Regions from separate parts of the Homo sapiens genome. Here region 1 is linked to region 2. A link means that fine-mapping ties the variant in region 2 to the expression of a gene that starts in the linked region. Tissue or cell type: whole blood. Region 2 holds a variant in brackets; the other region holds the start of a gene. All regions are shown on one strand. Distances are from middle to middle.

Region 1 (6,069 bases), 23 kb after region 2:
ATGAGCCACCATGCCTGAGCTCAACTTTGAAGTGTCAACTTGAAACTGCCTTTGCAAAGATTAAGGCAGTGATAGAGGCTGGGTGCAGTGGCTCACACCTGTAATCCCAGCACTTTGGGAGGCTGAGATGGATCACTTGGGCCCAGGAATTCAAGAACAGCCTGGGCAACATGGGGAGACCCTGTATCTACAAAAAATTTAAAACTTAGCCATGCACAGTGGTGTGAGCCTGTAGTCCCAGCTACCCCGCGGGGCTGAGGTGGAAGGATTACTTGATCCAAGGAGGTTGAGGCTGCAGTGAGCTGTGATCACGCCACTGCACTCCAGCCTGGGTGACAGAGTGAGACCCTGTCTCAAAAAAAAAAGACAGAGAAATTTCACACAGTTAATTCCGTCTTCCTTTGGACATCCAAGCTGTCCAGTTGTTCCTGGGCATAAGCCAAGCTAATTTTAGGAGCTTTGGGAGGAATTTACAGTTTAACCTTGAAACAAGGATGATAATAGTCCCTTCCTAAAACTATCACCTCCCACTTCTGGGGCTGAAATTGCCTTTGTAAAGCTAATGAAAGGCCACAAGGTTAGGATTGTGGGAGTGGCCTGAACTCTGCTAAAATGCAGGCCTAGTTTCTACAGTCCCTCACTGCTCAGGACTCATGTGGCCAGAGGTCACAAAATTTGCAACTTCCCGAATTGCACCTATAGATAATATCAGTATTGCAGGACCTAAGAATGGCTTTTTGAGATGTTTTTCAGAGTGAACCCACCCCAACCTGCTACTCAGGACTCAATTGGTTTCTGTGGCCCCACCCAGAGGCAGACTCAGTGCTTGAGGACCGTTTTCCACACACCCTTTTGATTTCATTCCCAGTCAATCAGCAGCATCCATTCCCTAGCCCCCTGCCCACCAAATTGTCCATAAAAACCCTAACTGCGGCCAGGCGTGGTGGCTCATGCCTGTAATCCCAGCACTTTGGGAGGCCGAGGCAGGCGGATCACAAGGTCAGGAGTTCAAGACCAGCCTGGCCATTATGGTGAAACCCCATCTCTACTAAAAAATACAAAAATTAGCCAGGCGTGGTGGCGTGTGCCTGTCGTCCCAGCTACTTAGGAGGCTGAGGTAGGAGAATCGCTTGAACCTGGGAGGTGGAGGTTGTAGTGAGCCGAGATTGTGCCACTGCACTCCAACCTGGGTGACAGAGTGAGACTCCGTCTCAAAAACAAAAACAAAAAAACAAAAAACAAACTCCTAACTGCTGAGCCTTTGGAGAGACTGATTTGAGTAGTAACTGTCTCCTGTGTGGCCTGCCAGGTGTCAATTAAACTCTTTTCCCGGCCTGCTGCAATCTTGATGAATTGACTTTTTGTCTGTGCAGTGGGCAGGAAGAACCCGATGGGCAATGGCAAGCTGAAGAATGATGAGATTCATAAATCTGGAAAGGAGAGCTTTACTTCTCATAAAGGGTTTCAGCCTGCAGGGTGGCCATTCTGACAGACAGGGAAGCACTGCCTCTGGCCAGAAGCCAGAAACAGACACTTCCAGGGAGGGGCAAAGGGAACAGGAATCTATGAGGTGCAGTGTGTAAATATACATATTTATCAAGCTACAGGAGAAGTCATGAATATTTTTGAAGAGAGAAACATACACAAACACAATGAAGCTTCAGGCCCCTTCACGAGGGTCATGTCATCTCACCAGAACCACTCCATGGTCAGTGTCTCTTATCAGTAAGGAATACTGGTCAATTGGGCCGAAACTGCAAATGAGAGAGTTGTTATCAGCGGTGGAGTCTTTCGAAAGCGCTGGTTTCCGTTAAGCTCTTAGCCAAGAAAACCTAATGGTAGTTAGCCAAGGGTTGGCCTTAATAACAGGTGTCTCACCTCCCATCTGTCATGGCTGAGAACTGCCTTCAAGGCAACCCTGGGATCTCCTTAGCCAGTAGGGGGTTCGTGTAGTCAGTTGGGGGTCTTTGGATTTCATTTTCATTTCTCAGAGGACAGGAAGGAAGGCTCTAACATGGGGAATCCTGAGAACTGCTGCTGTCTGTTAAATACGCCTACAAGTTATTTTTCTTATGTCACACTCTCCCAGACATGTTCTTACTTCTCATTTCTGATTTCTGTAATACACACACACTGATTTCATAAAACGTTTATGAGTCCAACACTTCCATTATAGCCCTGTATCAATGTTTTGCTTAGCTGAAATCAATTTCTTGGAGGAGTAAGTGTTATCTTTACTTTGTAAGCTGTAAGGGCCCAAATCAATGTACTTGGTAAAACTATCCATAGTGAACACACGCAAATGTCAAATGGCCATCATTTAGCATCTGCCCTCGGGCTTCCGGGTCCATCACGTGGTTACTGACAGGCAGGCCGCGCATGCGCGCTGCTACTCCGCCGAGCCTACGTGACACGACGTCAAGTGGCAATGGCGGCGGACGAGGGCTGTGCCCCCGGCCCGCCCCGTTAGGAGCCGCGAGTAAGGCGAGTGTCCAACGCCGAGCTGGCTGACAGAGCCCGGCCGCGGCCTCCGCGGGCCCAGGGGCCTCCAGGCCCCGTGACCACCGGACCGAGCACCCTGGAACGGCCCCAGCTTGGCCTCGGGACAGTCCGCGCGCTCACCGACTCCCTGGTGAACGCCGCTTGGCCGCCGCCGCCGCCGCAGGACCCACGAGAAGCGGAAACCGGCGCAAGGACCCGGTCCCCCCGGCGCCGTACGTGGAGTGAGCCTGCGGTCCGCCCCGCGCGCTCCGATTGGCTCTGGGGCCTGGCCCGCCCCTTCCCGACACTGTCATTGGCCTAGGCAAAGCCGTAAGGGTGGGGAATCCTATTGGCCCAGGGGTGCGGCTTGTCCTCTCCCGGTGCTCTCATTGGCCGAGCGCGGCCGTTGGGGGTGAGGCCGCGTCGGGGGAGGACAACAAAGGGCCGCGGGCGGCGGGCAGTGGTGTCCCAGTCTCCCGGTGCTTCCCTGAGGCTGAGGCGCCCGGCCTCCCGCCCGCCGCGCTCCAGATGAAGTGTGAGCACTGCACGCGCAAGGTGAGCGCCGCGGGCCGGGGAGGCGCGCGCCTGGTGCTTGTCCTGTGGGGCTCTGGGCGGCCGAGGTTGGCGGTCCGGGCCCGCCGCTCGCTCGCTTCAGGGCTCTTCAAGGCGCCCCCGGCCTCGGCACCCTGGGCCCGCTCGGCGTGGAGGCGGCCGGCGCGGGGTCCGCTGCGCTCTGCAGGGCGGGTTCGGTCTTCGCGGTTCTCCCTGAACTTGTCCATCTTTCCCACGCCCGCGAAGCGCGGAAACGCACGGAGACCGAGCCTCTCGTGCCGCGCACCACAGTCCGAGTAAACAGCGGTCGTGGCGGGAATGATCAGAAGCGTTTCGAGAGGGTTTTAGGCGTTTTCGAACCTGCCCCTCTGAGGGTCACCGAGCAGCCGGTGCAGGGGCGGAAGCGGGTGACGGCTGCTGACCGGCGCCTTCCGCGGTTGTCTCCAGGCCATGGCAACAACCGCGCAGCGCACGCAGGGGGGTTTTGTAGCTGTTATTGCCGGAATGGGCTCCTGTGGATGCTGCTCTGTGGCTGGCACTTCTGCGCGTGACGCCGTGGCAGGAGGCTTCCTAACATTCCATGGGTCGTTCATCCCCGGTGGTGGCTGCGTCCTATTCTAAGTACACCTGTGTCCAGGGGAATTCGCCTGTGGGGTGAAGGCTACAGTTGCTTCTGCTTTTTTATTATTGTAAACAATAGAGATGTGTGTGTGTCCTTCAGTACCTGTTTCACTAGAAGGGTTAGAAGGATAGAAGGCCAGGCACGGTGGCTCAAGCCTGTTATCCCAGCACCTTGGGAGGGGAGGCCGAGGCGGGTGGATCACCTGAGGTCAGCAGTTCAAGACCATCGTGGCCAACATGGCGAAACCCAGTCTCTACTAAAAATATAAAATTAGCTGGGTGTGGTGGCGCACACCTGTAATCCCAGCTACTCAGAAGGCCGAGGCAGGAGAATCGCTTGAACCCGGGAGGTGGAGGCTGCAGTGAGCCGAGATTGCGCCCCTGCACTCCAGCCTGGGTGAGAGCGAGACTCCGTCTAAAAAAATAAATAAATAAACTAAAAGAAAGGATAGAAATACATGAGCTTCATTGGTCAGAATGTGCACATTTTCTTAAGGGAGACGAAGTAAAAGTTCATTGATAATGTTCCTTTGCTTTTTTAAGGAATGTAGTAAGAAAACAAAAACTGATGACCAAGAGAATGTGTCAGCCGATGCACCGAGTCCAGCCCAGGAAAATGGAGAGGCAAGTAGATTTTTCAGTTTTGTATCAGCCCAGAGTAAACTACTGCTGCTGTTTTTCTCTTTGGGGGCTCACAGCACCGTGCACATCACTGCTTTAAAGAAGACTGAAGTACGCGGGCATGGTGGCTCACGCCTGGAATCCCAGCACTTTGGGAGGCCGAGGTGGACGGATCACTTGAGGTCAGGAGTTTGAGACCAGCCTGGCCAACATGGTGAAACCTTATCTCTGCTAAAAATACAAAAATTATCCAGGTATGGTGGTGTACGCCTGTAATCCCAGCTACTCAGGAGGCTGAGGCAGGAGAATTGCTTGACCCTGGAAGACAGAGGTTGCAGTGAGCTGAGATTGTACCACTGTACTTCAGCCTGGGCAACAGAGTGAGACTCTGTCCCAAAAAAAAGACTGAAATAGGCCAGGCGTGGTGGCTCATGCCTGTAATCCCAGAACTTTGGGAGGCCGAGGCAGGCGGATCATGAGATCAGGAGATTGAGACTATCCTGGCTAACACAGTGAAACCTCATCTCTACTAAAAATGCAAAAAATTAGCCGGGCGTGGTGGGGGGCGCCTGTAGTCCCAGCTACTCGGGAGGCTGAGCCAGGAGAAAGGCGTGAACCTGGGAGGCGGAACTTGCAGTGAGGCAAGATCGCGCCACTGCACTCCAGCCTGGGCAACAGAGTAAGACTCCGTCTCCGAGACTGAAATAAACTTGAAGGGGCTAATAAAGACATGTGTGAGACAGTCCATCAGTGGCACAAGGCCTGTCTTCTCAGAACACACTACACCAAAACACACTGCATTGGGAACAAAGAAAACGTGGTGTAATACTGGATTTCTTCTTTTAATTTTTTTTTTCCCCTTTTGAGACAGGGTCTCACTGTCACCCAGGCTGGAGTGCAGTGGCTCACTGTATGGCTCACCGCAGCCTTGACCTCTGAGGCTCAAGTGATTCTCCTGCCTCAGCCTCCCTAGTAGCTGGGACTACAGGTATGCACCACCATGCTCAGCTAATTTATTTTTATTTTTATTTTTTGGTAGAAATGGAGTTCCACTATGTTGCCCAGATTGGTCTTGACCTCCTGGGCTCAAGTGATCCTCCTGCCTCAGCCTCCCAAAGTGCTGGGATTACAGGCGTGAGCCACTGCACCTGGCCTCTCTTCTAATTCAGTTCTTGTTTTTAAATTCTCCTTAGCTAGTAGCTATGGTCTCTGTTTATTGGATACATAACCTGAGCCTGGCTCTCAAGAATGTGATTTTACAGCCAGGCATGGTGGCTCACACCTGTAATCCCAACACTTTGGGAGGCCGAGGTGGGTGGATTACCTGAGGTCAGGAGTTCAAGATCAGCCTGACCAACATAGATAAACCCCATCTCTACTAAAAATACAAAATTAGCTGGGCGTGGTGGTGCATGCCTGTAATCCCAGCTACTCAGGAGCCTGAGGCAGGAGAATTGCTTGAACCCGGGAGGCGGAGGTTGAGGTGAGCCGAGATCACGCCACTGCACTCCAGCTGGGGCGACAGAGTGAGACTCCGTCTCAAAAAAAAGAATGTCATTTTACATGCAGTCTCATTTCACGCCCAGAAGGAACATTACATGTAAGCCTGGCCATTATCCCTGTTTTACTGAGTGAAGGGTGTTGGGAGAGGTTAAGGTCAGTCTACCCTTAGAAAGTACTAGTACCAGTTTATAAATGGAGAGTTGGCAATATGGCAGAAGCATATTTTTTCCTTAAGTTTAGTAGTCCTGACATGTTTAATCTGACAGGTGTTCTCCCGGTTGCCCTGTGTGC
Region 2 (7,553 bases):
AGGAGAGTGTGCAGCACCATCTGGCTTTCTGTTTCCAGGGTCACCCATTAAATCTGCAGCCAGTCTTGGCTCTCCCCAGCAGGGACTGCACCCTCTGGCAAGCGGAAGACAGGGCCTCTTCTCCAGTTGCTGCTTCTACTGACAGCGCCCCCACAAGGGGTGGGTTTTTAACCCAGCCTCAAGTTAAGTCTGCCCCTTTGGCAGCAAAGCTGTGGTTTCCACAGTGAGGGGGAAGGGGGCAGTGAGTAGCCCTAGGCCGAGGCCACAGAGTCTCTGTTCTTAGGCAAAGTTAGAGTGGTCTTTCATAGATAAACATTTTTCTGTTTTTTTCTTTTCAGAGACAGGGTCTCACTCTGTCGCCCAGGCTGGAGTGCAGTGGTGTGATCATGGCTCACTACAGCCTCAACTTCCTAGGCTCCAGTGATCTTCCCGCTTCAGCCTCCCAAGTAGCTGGACCACAGGCAGGTGCCACCACACCTGGCCACTTTTTTTTCTTAAACCGATTTGGTTTTTAAAAAATTTATGGCTGGGTGCAGTGGCTCACGCCTGTAATCCCAGCACTTTGGGAGGCCAAGGCGGGCAGATCACAAGGTCAGGAGATCGAGACCATCCTGGCTAACACGGTGAAACCCCGTCTCTACTAAAACAAAATACAAAAATTAGCCGGGCGTGGTGGCGGGCGCCTGTAGTCCCAGCTACTCGGGAGGCTGAGGCAGGAGAATGGTGTGAACCTGGGAGGCAGAGCTTGTAGTGAGCCGAGATCATGCCACTGCACTCCAGACTGGGCGGCAGAGCAAGACTCCATCTCAAAAAAAAAAAGAAAAAAAAAAAAAAATATATATATATATATATATATATATATATATATATATTTTTTTTTTTTTTTTATATATATATTTTTAGTCTGGGCGTGGTGGTTCACGCCTGTAATCCCAGCACTTTGGGAGGCCAAGGAAGGCGAATCACTTGTGGTCAGGAGTTCAAGACCAGCCTGGCCAACATAGTGAAACGCCATCTCTACTAAAAATACAAAAATTAGCCAGGCGTGGTGGCACATGCCTGTAATCCCCAGCTACTGGGAAGGCTGAGGCGGGAGGATCACTTGAACCTGGGAGGCAGAGGTTGCAGTGAGCCGAGACTGTGCCACTGCACTCCAGCCTGGGCAACAAAGCGAGATTCCATGGGGTTTCACCAGTTGTCCAGGCTGGTCTCAAATTCCTGAGTTCAAACATTCTACCCACCTCAGCCCCCACAAGGTGCTGGGATTACAGGACTGAGACTCTCTGCCTGGCCTAATTTTTTTGTATTATCTGTAGATTTGAAACAGAAGCCCCAGGTGGGCAGAAGGAGATCAGTCCAGCTCCTCCGCCCCCAACGCGAACTTCTCTGTCTCTCCGCAGTTTGTGCTGAAGCACACGGCCTTCGCCCACCTGCGGGAGGTGGGCTCCTTCCCCTGCACCCTGAACCCCCACGAGGCAGAGTCCCTGGCGCTGGTGGGCGCCATGATTGACCAGGTCCTGGAGCTACACCCAGGCGCCCAGCGGCTGCACATCGGGTGTGATGAGGTGGGTACTGTCACCCCAGCTCTGTGCAGGACACTCTCCCCTATCATGGCTTGTCCTTTTAAATAGGAAAATCTTCCAGGCACTGAGGCCTAGAGACAGGCTTGTTGTTCCCCTCAGGGCACCCCATCCAACATCTTCTCCGAGTGGATGGGCGGCCTGGCACGGGACAGCCTGCGGAGCCCGAGGGAGGCACCCTCGTGTCAGACGCGTCCAACATCTTCTCCGGGTGGATGGGCGGCCTGGCACGGGACAGCCTGCAGAGCCCGAGGGAGGCACCCTCGTGTCAGACGAGACCACCCCGGGCGGCTGGGCTGGCGGAAGCCTGTGGGTGATGGGCAGGTTCACGCCCCAGGACCAGCAGTGAGCATAAGTCAGGGTGTAACTCGAGGGACACCCTTTTGTTGCTGAGAGGAAGTTCTGCATTTGGACCCTGAAGCACCCAATGGAAAAGGTGGTCCCCAGGGGGTGCCAGAGATGTGCCCCCTCCAACCCAGTGAGCCCCCACCCTTGCCCCTCCTGCCACTCACTGGACTCCAACTCAGTCAGGGCCTGGGCAGGATGTGGAACTGAAAGGGGCGGGGTTGGTGCCCACGGGGCTGGGAGGTTCTGCAGGGCTGTGGCTCACAGGGAACCCGAGCTGAACATTTTAGCCCCAGAAGTTTCCTTTTTTTGAAGGAAACCTGAGTATGTAAAATACACTTAAGCTTTACCATTCTAACCATTTTAAAATATAGGCTGGGTGTGGTGGCTCACGCCTGTAATCCCAGCACTTTGGGAGACCAAAGTGGGTGGATCACCTGAGGTCAGGTGTTTGAGACCAGTTTGGCCAATGTGGTGAAACCCCGTCTCTACTAAATATACAAAAATCAGCCGGGCGTGATGGCGGGCGCCTGTAATCCCAGCTACTCAGGAGGCTGAGGCACGAGAATCGCTTGAACCCAGGAGGTGAAGGTTGCAGTGAGCTGAGATCACGCCACTGCATACCAGCCTGGGCAACAGAGTGAGACTCCGGCTCTAAATAAATAAGTAAATAAATAAATAGGCCAGGCACGGTGGCTCACACTTGTGATCCCAGCACTTTGGGAGGCTGAGGCAGGTGGACCACCTGAGATCAGGAGTTCAAGATCAGCCTGGCCAACATGGTGAAACCCCGTCTCTACTAAAAATACAAAATTAGCCAGGTGTGGTGGTGGGCGCCTGTAATCCCAGCTACTCAGGAGACTGAGGCAGGAGAATCACTTGAACCCAGGAGGTGGAGGTTGCAGTGAGCCGAGATTGAGATTGTGCCACTGCACTCCAGCCTGGGCAACAGAGCAAGACCCTGTCTCCAAAATAAATAAATAAGTATAAACGTCAGCACCTCTTCCAGACATTCATGGTGTGGGCAATCACCCCAGGGCAAGCCCCGCACCTGCCCCCAGGCCCCGGCGACCACGGTCTGCTTCCTATCTCGGTGGATTTGCCCGTCTGGGCATTCCACGGGTACCGAGTCACACAGTGTATGACCTGTGCTCCTCCGGGCTGTCAGCTGCCAGAGCTTGGCTGTCTGCTGAAGCCGAGCCGTGTTCATGGTGGGGGATGCTGCCCTATGCTGGTCCATCATGGGGGATGGACCCCTGTGGTCTCTGCTTTGTTGGCTGTGAGAAGAGCTGCTGTGAACATTCACAGGAAACCTTGAGTAGAAGTTCAGGGCTCAGTGAGGAAGACAGGGACACGCTGGGGGTGGTAAGCAAAGGCTCCGAGCCCCTCCCTGGCCTCCTCCCCACAGGCAGCGGCCCCTCTCCGTCAGGGCACGGCGTGAACCCCGGACCCTCCCACCGGTGTGCACGGCTGCCAAGGCAACCCCGTCCTGCTCCTTCCTTGCAGGTCTATTACCTCGGAGAGGGGGAGGCCTCGCGCCGGTGGCTACAGCAAGAGCAGAACAGCACGGGGAAGTTGTGCCTGTCACACATGCGGGCGGTGGCCAGCGGCGTGAAGGCCCGGCGCCCCAGCGTGACACCCCTGGTGTGGGACGACATGCTCCGAGACCTGCCTGAGGACCAGCTCGCAGGTCGGCCAACAGGGCTGGGGGAGGGGGTGGGCCACTGAACTGCCCAAGACCTGCGGCTTCAAAGAAAGAAG[G/C]TGCTGTAGGAAGTGGGCCCCAGGGTGAGCCCCAGCCCCGCACAGACCCGCCACAACCACCTCCTGCATCCCCTTGACGCCAGGCCTGAGTCGTTTCCCTAGAAGCTGTGGAGGTTTGGGCAGGAGAGCACAGGCCTGCCTGGTGGCCCAGAGGGCTTGGGAGTGTCCAGCACTCGCAGCAGCCTCCTCCAAGGCCATCCCTGCTGGGACTGGGGGCCGAGGTTCCCGCTGGCTGCTCCTCCAGCCCCTGGGCCCTGCTCGCTCTGCCTGAGGCTTTGGGACGAGCTGCTGAGCGCCTTTCTGGGCCAAGAGGTGGTACTCAGACACCTGGCCTGGTTCCACACAGAGCCCCGAGGCTCAGTGAGCTCCATAGCAGAGCTGGGAGCCAGGGTGTCCTAGGGCCGTGCCGGCCTGGCAGCTTCCACCCATGCATGGCCACATAGATGACTTAGAGTGACCTCCATTCAGCCGCGTGCTCCAGCTGTGCCTGTGGCTCATGGCCTGGTAGAGCAGCAGTGGGAGCATGGTCGCTCCAGCGGGCGCTGGCTTGGAAAGGCACTGTGTGTGGTTGTGGCATTCATTGTCAAAACCCAGCACGGTGCCAAGTCTGTCTTAAAAAGGTATCTGTGCTCACACTTTCAAGCAAAACGAGAACAGGTGGGTCCGAGGGGCTGAGAGTGTGGTCCAGGTGTCTCACCAACCTCACGTCCGCTCTGTCTGCAGCGTCCGGGGTGCCGCAGCTGGTGGAGCCGGTGCTCTGGGACTACACGGCCGACCTGGATGTGCACGGCAAGGGTCAGTGCCAAGTTGTGGGGGGTGTGTTGTCCTGGCCATGTGCCTGGGAAGGCCATCCCTGGCCCTGTGACCCTGCAGCCGGAACTGCCCAGCCTGGAGCCTGCACGGGTAGAGGCCAGGGCACAGCCCCAGCAGACCCCAGCCCATGGTGCCTCGGGACGGCCACCGTGCACCGGTGCCTCACCTCCCTCCCTGTTCCACCAGTGTTTTCCTAGTGAGCAGGTGAACCAGGGGCCACGTACACTCTGGAGTCTCCCCGACTGGGACCCGGGCCGGCCGCATACACTCTGGAGTCTCCTACACTGAGACCCGGGCCTGGCTGTCTCAGGCGGCTCCCATGTTGGCTCTGGGTACAGCCCCGGGAGGCGTGTCCAGGGCCGTGTTGGCCGCCTCCCCTGGAGCCACTCACCTGTTTGCTTTCTCACCCAGTCCTCCTCATGCAGAAGTACCGGCGGTGCGGCTTTCCGCAGCTGTGGGCAGCCAGTGCCTTCAAGGGTGCCACGGGGCCCAGCCAGGCCGTGCCCCCTGTTGAGCACCACCTCAGGAACCACGTGCAGTGGCTGCAGGTGGCGGGCAGCGGGCCCACGGACTCACTGCAGGGCATCATCCTGACCGGCTGGCAGAGGTAAGTCCTGGCCAGTCTGTCCTCAGAGGGTCCAGGGCAGCTCTGGTGGCCACCACGTCGGCCTGTGCAGCGTCCGCCAAGGGCCTTCCCAGGTTGGTCAAAGGGGAAGCAGCCCGGGCCTCCAAGAGGAGCTGCAGAAACAGCCACGTGGGGTTGGGCCCTGCACGCCAGAGCGGCCGCTGAGGGACGCTGCTCCCGTGTTCAGGGTCACGAACACGTGGCCCCCAGCCCCCATGCTACCCGTGTGCGCCGCACCTGAGGCTGTGTGTGTGTGTGTGTGTGTGTCTTGCTTGTGGCACGAGGAGGGGTTTCGGTTCTTTCAGGATTTCACTCTGTTGCTAGAAATGCCGTCTCAATTCGGACCCCACGAGAAGGTTCTTGGGTCTCACACAGGAAAGAATTCAAGGCCAAGTGTGGTGAGGGAGGGTCACTGAAAGGTGCCCAGTGACAGAGGTGGAGCCCTCGGAAGGCCAGCATAGGCGTGCCCAGCTCTGTTTTCCGTTTTTCTCATATCAGGGTCTTGTCTACGTAAACACTAAGCTGTGCTACCTGTGGGTGGGCCAATAGTGTGACAGAATTTATTACTCTAGGGGCTGAGTGCGGTGGCTCATGCCTGTTATCCCAGCACTCTGGGAGGCTGAGACGGGTGGATCACCTGAGGTCCAGAGTTCGTGACCAGCCTGGCCAACGTGGTGAAACCCCATCTCTACTAAAGACACAAAAATTAGCCTGGCGTGGTGGCACGCGCCTATGATCCTAGCTACTCGGGAGGCTGAGGCAAGGAGAATCACTTGAACCCAGGAGGCGGAGGTTGCAGTGAGCCAAGATCACACCGCTGCACTCCAGCCTGGGCGACAGAGCAAAACTCTGTCTCAAAAAAAAAAAATGTATTACTCTATGATTTAAAGAAAACTGTCCTGGACATTTCAGTGTGTAGCCTATGGAAGCCTAACTCTGGTGACCTAGAAGGCACATGCTGTCGTGGGTGTGGGGATGCCAGGACTGTCGGCTGTTGTAGGAGTGGCCCCTGCAGGTATCTAAGCACTTCCTCAGCTGTAAAAATCCTGTGACTGTGGGTCCTGCCTGGCAAGAATGGGCCTTGTTAGTCCCATGAAGGAGCTGGGCCTCCGTGGCATCACCCTGGCGCTCCCAGGCCCCTGCTCCCCTGACGACACTGTGTGAAAAGCAGAGCTAAGATAAACCCCTGGTCGCCGGCCAAGTCCTGACCTTGGGTCTCGTCTCAAGTTAGAGGGTTGGGGGGCAGGTGGCGCAGGTGATGTGGGCTAGGCGAACGGCTGGAGGCCAGACCCACCAGGGGCCCCGTGCCCTCACCCACAAAGCTCAGATTGAGATGGAGTCAAGAATTTCATGGTGGGGACCGCAGAGCCTGGTGGGCCAGCCTGCTAGAGGGGCAGCTCACAGCCACCATGCATGTCCGGAGCTGGCAGCGGCTCTGCAGAAGCTTCTAGATAGTTCCCACTGTCCTGTTGGGATACAGCTCTGTCTGCATAAACCAGGATCGTCCATAGAGCGGGGCGAGGCTCCTCCTCCCCCAGAGCAGCGGCGCATCCTTCAGGCGAGCCTGGGGCTGTGGCGTCAGGCATTGCCCAGCCTTCGCCTGTGCTCACACCTGGGGCAGCGTCTGTCACCCACCTCACAGCTGAAGAAACTGAGGCACGGGCAGGTGGAGGCACCCTACCCAGCAGTGGGAAGCCCAGGCCAGGCCAAGGCCCCCCAGCCCTCGCTTGGGACAGATGCTGCCCCTGACCTGCTGCCTGCCACGCCTGATCTCTCGCCCTCCTCATGGGGCCTTGGGGAAAAGCTGCCACCCCCACCAGCCAGACAGGAGGCAGCCGAGGGAGAGGGTGGGGCAGGAGGGGCCCGGAGGCCCTAGGAGGGGGGCGTCAAGGGCAGCCCCCAGAAGCAGGAGCCCTTTTCTCAGAGGCCAGAGGTGCTGGGGGGAGGGACAACGACCGGCCACCCACCCAAGGTCCACCCAGAATTCCCATGGCTCCGGAGAGCATTGCAGCAAGGAATCCCCACGCTCTTCACTTGTCCGGTTTCTAGAACGGAGTTGACATGAGAGCCCTGCCGCACAGAACCTGTCTTGGAAACCCTGGGCCCCATGGGTTGAGGGGGTCGGGCTGCCCCCAGCGCTGATGTAGCCTAAGGCCCTGGAACAACAGCAGGGACGTCCGAAGTCAGGGCGCCTGCGTCAGGCTGCTGGGGGCGGGCTGCGGAGCTAAGCGCCCCTCTCATGGACCCAGGTACGACCACTACTCTGTGCTGTGCGAGCTGCTGCCCGCAGGAGTCCCGTCCCTGGCCGCCTGCCTGCAGTTGCTTCTACGCGGTATGTCTGGTCTGGCCACCCCAAGCCCCACCGGCCCCTCCCCGAAAGACCCGGAGGGCAGGAGGCCAAGCACCCAGTGCTCCAACCACCCTGCTGG

Evidence for each region. PIP is the estimated chance that this variant, and not a neighbour inherited with it, causes the effect.
Region 1: NARF starts here. The variant in region 2 is fine-mapped to the expression of NARF in whole blood (TOPMed, PIP 0.97).

What each region holds. Positions count from the first base shown.
Region 1 is chr17:82,455,795-82,461,863 of GRCh38, forward strand. NARF (nuclear prelamin A recognition factor) reads left to right here and starts at 2,947. Exons shown (of 11, transcript NM_012336.4): 1 at 2,947-3,036; 2 at 4,198-4,278. The coding sequence starts at 3,010. It overlaps NARF-AS2 (NARF antisense RNA 2), which reads right to left and starts at 2,725. Exons shown (of 3, transcript NR_184099.1): 1 at 1,879-2,725; 2 at 1,644-1,754. RefSeq lists enhancers at 2,286-2,435, 2,869-3,701 and a silencer at 2,466-3,285.
Region 2 is chr17:82,432,258-82,439,810 of GRCh38, forward strand. It overlaps HEXD (hexosaminidase D), which reads left to right. Exons shown (of 13, transcript NM_001330542.2): 5 at 1,401-1,565; 6 at 3,432-3,615; 7 at 4,410-4,481; 8 at 4,911-5,106; 9 at 7,374-7,456. Among named protein-coding and RNA genes, the nearest start is that of HEXD-IT1, 11 kb to the left of the region's middle. RefSeq lists enhancers at 6,744-7,243, 7,466-7,553. The variant G/C (reference allele first, on the strand shown) is at 3,687.